Linked DNA regions of Homo sapiens. The protein of the gene in region 1 purifies or fractionates together with the protein of each later gene. This does not show direct contact. Each region holds a gene or a part of one and is shown on either strand. Other genes may lie near its edges.

Region 1 (2,704 bases):
AAATGCTGTCAGTTACGTGTTTAAACCAGAGTACACTCTCTCGGAGACTATTTCTTGAAAATGACAGATATTCTGTTCTATAGGTTAAAAATACACAGAAACTCACCTGGGATCTAATACCCTCCATATAGGCCAAACCTGATTGCTGTCCTAATTTTCTAGAGCAGTCCTGTTGTTCAATAGAACTTCTTGAGCTGAAGGAAATGTTCTAGATCTTCACTGTTAAAAACAGTAGTCACTAGCTACATGTGGCTACTAGCCACCTGGAATATGACTAGTATCACCAAGGAAATGAATTTTTAAATTTTATTTAATTCAAATTTATACTTCACATTTCTATACTACCCACTCAATACACTGATTCCCTCAACCACAACTACCTAAGTAACTGCCAGAGTATTTTATATTCTCTGTATCACTAAGGAACATTTCACCTCCAAAAGCTCCTCTGATCAAACATTTGTTCAACATCTGTTTATCCTTCTAATTAAGCACACTTTAATTTTTTTTTTGAGACTTTTTTTTTTTTTGAGACAGTCTCGCTTTATCGCCCAGGCTAGAGTACAGTGGCACGATCTCAACTCACTGCAACCTCCACCCCCTCCAACTTCAGGCGATTCTCCTGCCTCAGCCTCCCAAGTAGCTGGGACTACAGGTGCCCACCACCACGCCCGGCTAATTTTTGTATTTTTAGTAGAGATGGGGTTTCACCATGCTAGTACCAAACTCCTGACCTCAGGTGATCCACCCGCCAGGGCCTCCCAAAGTGCTAGGACTACAGGCGTGAGCCACCATGCCCAGCCTAGGCACACATCTTAATATTTGATTTCAGGAAGATCAAAACAAAAACTAAAAAGGCCTATTTATTTAAATAAAGTTTATTACATTAAGGATTAATTTGTATCTTTTTAAACCAACTTATGCATTTATTAAGACTTCGGGCCGGGCGCAGTGGCTCACGCTTGTAATCCCAGCACTTTGGGAGGCCGAGGTGGGTGGATCACGAGGTCAGGAGATCGAGACCATCCTGGCTAACACGGTGAAACCCCATCTCTACTAAAAATACAAAAAATTAGCCGGGCATGGTGGTGGGCACCTGTAGTCCCAGCTACTCGGAAGGCTGAGGCAGGAGGATGGCGTGAACCCGGGAGGCGGAGTTTGCAGTGAGCAGAGATCGCGCCACTGCACTCCAGCCTGGGCGACAGAGCAAGATTCCATCTCAAAAAAAAAAAAAACAAAAAACAAAACAAAAAAAAAAAACACAGACTTCAGGACTCCTACTTTTAGCCAGTAAGTAACAGTGACTGAAAGATAGATTGTTAAATGTAAGATGTAAAGAAACTAAAATATAAAAAGATACATTACATCTCATCTGTCACGAATACTGTGCTAAGTTCTGAGTGTAAAATTTTAAAAGAAAAATTGTTAAGTGAAGTTATGTCCAGGAAGGCGATCCAAGACAGTAAAAATCCTGGAAACCATGAACAAAAAAATTACTGATAGAACTAAGGATGTTTAATTTGAAAAAGAAAATTGAGGAGATATGATAGCAATTTTCTATTATCTGATGGCTGTTATATGGAAGTGGGTCAGAATTTCTGTGCTTCAATGAACAATGGGTAGCATAGGAAAAAGGCAGATTTTAACTCACCATATGATCCTTTTAACAGCTACACAAGGCTGGGCACAGTGGCTCACACCTGTAATCCTAGCACTTTGGGAAACCAAGGCGGGCGGATCACCTGAGGTCAGGAGTTCAAGACCAGCCTAACTAACATGGTGAAACCCCGTCTCTACTAAAAATACAAAAATCTGCCAGGCGTACTGGAGGGCGCCTGTAATCCCGCTACCTGGGAGGCTGAGACAGGAGAATCACTTGAACCCAGGAGGCAGAGGTTGCAGTGAGCCGAGATCGCGCCACTGCACTCCAGCCTGGGCAACAGAGCAAGACTCCGTCTCAAAAAAAAAAAAAAAAAAAAATAGCCAGGCCTGGTGGCACACACCTGTGGTCCCAGCTACTTGGGAGCCTGAGGCAGAAGAAGTGCTTGAACCCAGGAGGCAGAGGTTGCAGTGAGCCAAGATCGCACCACTGCACTCCAGCCTGGGGGACACAGCAAGACTTCTTCTTAAAAAAAAAAAAAAACAAAAACAAAAAAAACAGCTACACAAGATGGAAAGGGCTGCCTTGTGATCCAGTAAGCAATTTATTACTGGGAATGTTAAGAACAGAAGATGGATGAATGCTGGGGGGAAAAAATCCCCTGCACTGTGTGGGTAATTAGATTACACAATCTCTCAAGTCCCTCCTAACTAGATATGTACACTACTATGTTAAGACACTTTGAATGCATAGACTGAGAATGAAAAACATCTGAAACAGAAATTATTAATCAATAGTACTTACATATGTCCATGTAACAATACAGAAAGTGGCTCCACTAGCTAATACAGCATTACCGTATTTGTCATGAAAATCAGGTGTACGTTTCTGGTGGCTCTGCCTTGCCATTGTTTGCTGAATGCTTCGAACTTACAGGAAAACGAAAAAAGAATACAGAAGCATATTATCAATTGTCAGGTAAAGAAAACATATGTGATTGATACTGCCAATCAGGAAAGCCAAGGAAGTTAATTTTACAGTATTATGTAGTTCAATAAAATGTTAAAACATATTGTAGCTATTAAAGCAGTGTACTTTGAAATG
Region 2 (3,500 bases), on another chromosome or scaffold:
TACAGACTGTTTTCAAACAAATACAATAATGCTACCGCAAAATGCAGTTATTACGTGTTTAAGCTGCCCAAGCCGTTAGAGATGGTGAGTTTATATAAGTGTTTACTCGATACGGCAGAAAATATGTGTCTGAAGACAATGAATTATTGACAAATTTAAATTTAACTTTCGACAATGATGTTGCTCAGTGTAGTAAAGATAGGTCTGAGAACTTACGGGATAAGCTGCATGGAAAAGACAAGCTATTTATGGTGCTTCCAATGGCAGCTGATTAGAACACAGATATAAATATAACTCAGATAACTATATTTACTCATGGAGCTGATGAGAATTTTGATGAGACTGAAGAACTTAATGAATATATATTATTCATGATAAGCATATTAGGAAATGGTTCTTTCTCATGTTCTATGAAAAGTTTAATGTAGACTGGTCACAATTAACAAATGTGACCCACATTGTTAATGTCACACTTTTTATTCAACAGAAACAACATTTTCCAAGTCCCGGAAGCTCAAACTCGTTCATCATATTGTTCCACTTATAGCATGATCCTGAGGTATGAGGATTTTTGCAGAAACTTAACAAAGTAATGGTCATGTAGGTGGTAACTAACACTAGGAAAAAGACCCAGTCCCTTAAGCTGAGGGGTAGACAGCTGGATGCTTTGTTTCTTAAGCTGGATGCATAACACAACAGATGGCTGGCGGGCCTGCGGTGGAGGCTAGAGGTATGGTGCAGAAGAGAGCTAACTTTCTGACCCATTGAAAACAATGCATCACAGGAACCAGGGGAAAACCCTTGGCGTGGCTCACCCACTAACACTGCATCCAGGACTTGATCTTTTTGGATGACATCACAAGCCATCTACTTTATTGCCTCATATAAATGGAATCGTTCAGTATTTGTCTTTCTGTGATTCACCTGTTTCACTTAGCGTAATGTCCTCAAGATTCACCTCTGTTGTAGCATGTGTCAGAAATCCATTCCTTTTTAAGGCTGAATAACATTCCATTGTACGTATATACCACATTTTGCTTATCCATTCACCCCTGGAAGGATACCTGGGTTGCTCTACCTTTTGGCTATTGTGAATAATGCTGCTATGAACATGGATATACAAATATCTCTTCAAGACCCTGCTTTCAATTCTGCTTTCAATATATACAGCGTGGGACTGCTGGATCATACAGTAATTCCAGTTTAATTTTTTGAGAAATCACCATAATGTTTTCCATAGTCACCAAACCATTTTACATTCCTACCAACAGAGAACAAGAATTCCAATTTCTCTACACCCTCACCAACACTTACTATTTTTTTTTATAGTAGCCATCCTAATGGGTGTGCAGTAGCATTTTGAAACCCACCCAATAGTCCCATAGACAGTTCTTTTTGGATAAACAAAGAAATTGACCCTTCTGCTGTTAAAGTTTGAAACTTGCATCTGTTTTGAGTTTCTTCCCCAGAAAAGGACCTTCAGGCCTTTCAAAAAAAGTATCAAAGAACCAAAACTCAGCTGATCACCAGACCAGATGACTCCTTGCCCCTCCCTAGTTCTTGTTTTCTTACACATTGTTACATTTCTTCCCTGCTATATAAACCCCTAGTTTTAGTGGGTTAGGGAGATGAATTTGAGGCTGAGCTCCCATCTCAGCAGCAGCAGCCGATTAAAGCCTTCTTCCTTGGCAATACTTGTCGTGACAGTGATGGGCTTTCTGTGCAGTGAACAGGAGGACCTAGACAAAACCCCTGGTGTTTTGGTAGCAATTTCATTGTGAGTAGTCATGCTGAGCGCCTAAGTTTTCATGTGCTTATTGGCCATCCATATATTGTCTTTGGAGAAATGTCTATTTAAAGTTATTTGCCTATTTTTAATTTGCGTCTTGAGTTGTTTCATTTGTTGAGTTACAGGAGTTCTTTATATATTCTGGATATTAATCCTTTATCAGATATAGACTTGCAAATATTTTCTCCCATCCCATGGGTTGCCTTTTCACTCTGTTGATAGTGCCTGATGCATAAAAGTCTTTAATTTTGGTCCAATTTACCTCTTTTTTCTCTTGTTGCCTGTGTTACTGGTGTCATATCCAAGAAATTATTGCCAAATCCAATGTTATAAAGCTTTTTCTTTATGCTTTCTTCTAAGAGTTGTATACTTTTAGTTCTTATGCTATGGTCTTTGATCAGTTTTGTGTTAATTTTTGCATAGGGTATAAAGTATTCCTAACACTATTTCCTGAAAGGGACATTCTTAAATGATTACACAAATACATGATTTCATTCACTCATTCCCACTGAAATTTTAACTTTTAGAACATTTGTTTGGCAAGAAATTATCCCAGTTTGCAGAAATCTAAGACTGATGGCCTGAATTATATATATTTTTACATGTGTGAAACTGAAAGTAAACTGTCCCCTCCACCCCTCAGGCATACAAAATTCATGATTTCAAGGTTTATAAAAATGATATAATCTGTTCAGTCTGCCTTTCTCAATTACTAATGATACTATGAGCAAAGAACTTTACAAATGGAAGTTACAATGCAATATTGGACAACTAAACATGATTGATATGGAATCTAAGATTTTTACAAATATCTCCGGAATAGTTACCCCAAATGGCAAAACTTTTTATGCCAACATTCTTTTCCAGCTTGAAAGTACTTAAATTTATGAACACGCATTTTCTATAATTAAACTAAATGAAACTCAGTATTCTTGCTGGTTAAGGAAGTCAAATAGTGCAGAAAAACATCCCAATCCAAAAGATGAGATGTGCCAAAATCTTGGTGCAATCATAGCTCACTGTAGCATCCACCTCCTAGGCTCAAATGATCCTTCTGCCTCAGCCTCCCTAGTTAGCATGCCATGCCTGGCATCAGACTGTAAGCTCCAAATGTAAAGAGGAGAACTAGAAAAAAATTACTTCAGTTCACCTTTTCTTAATTCTGAATATCAAACTCCAATATTAACTTAGAGTTAGGGGTAAAAGTGAAGATAGCGTATCCTATTTCTGTCAGTTGACTATTTTACACCAGGCTTGCTTCATTAGATTAGATGATATAATCTGCTAGTTCCCTTAGGCATCTGAATTCAGGATTCCTAAAGTGCCAGTTCTTTTTTTTTATTATTATTATTATTATACTTTAAGTTTTAGGGTACATGTGCACATTGTGCAGGTTAGTTACATATGTATGTATACATGTGCCATGCTGGTGTGCTGCACCCACTAACTCGTCATCTAGCATTAGGTATATCTCCCACTGCTATCCCTCCCCCCTCCCCCCACCACACCACAGTCCCCAGAGTGTGATTGTTCCCCTTCCTGTGTCCACGTGGTCTCATTGTTCAATTCCCACCTATGAGTGAGAATATGCGGTGTTTGGTTTTTTGTTCTTGGGATAGTTTACTGAGAATGACGATTTCCAATTTCATCCATGTCCCTAAAGGACATGAACTCATCATTTTTTATGGCTGCATAGTATTCCATGGTGTAT

The links. Proteins that work in one complex are often made in the same cells at the same time.
Region 2: the proteins of COX7B (region 1) and AUH fractionate together in Homo sapiens (co-fractionation; one large-scale study listed by BioGRID). This does not show direct contact.

What each region holds. Positions count from the first base shown.
Region 1 is NC_000023.11:77,902,468-77,905,171, reverse strand, and holds part of COX7B (cytochrome c oxidase subunit 7B, mitochondrial precursor), read right to left. Parts: intron 2,530-2,704; coding exon 2,405-2,529; intron 1-2,404. UniProt on the Homo sapiens protein: Component of the cytochrome c oxidase, the last enzyme in the mitochondrial electron transport chain which drives oxidative phosphorylation.
Region 2 is NC_000009.12:91,222,419-91,225,918, forward strand, and holds part of AUH (methylglutaconyl-CoA hydratase, mitochondrial isoform 1 precursor), read right to left. Parts: intron 1-3,500. UniProt on the Homo sapiens protein: Catalyzes the fifth step in the leucine degradation pathway, the reversible hydration of 3-methylglutaconyl-CoA (3-MG-CoA) to 3-hydroxy-3-methylglutaryl-CoA (HMG-CoA). Can catalyze the reverse reaction but at a much lower rate in vitro.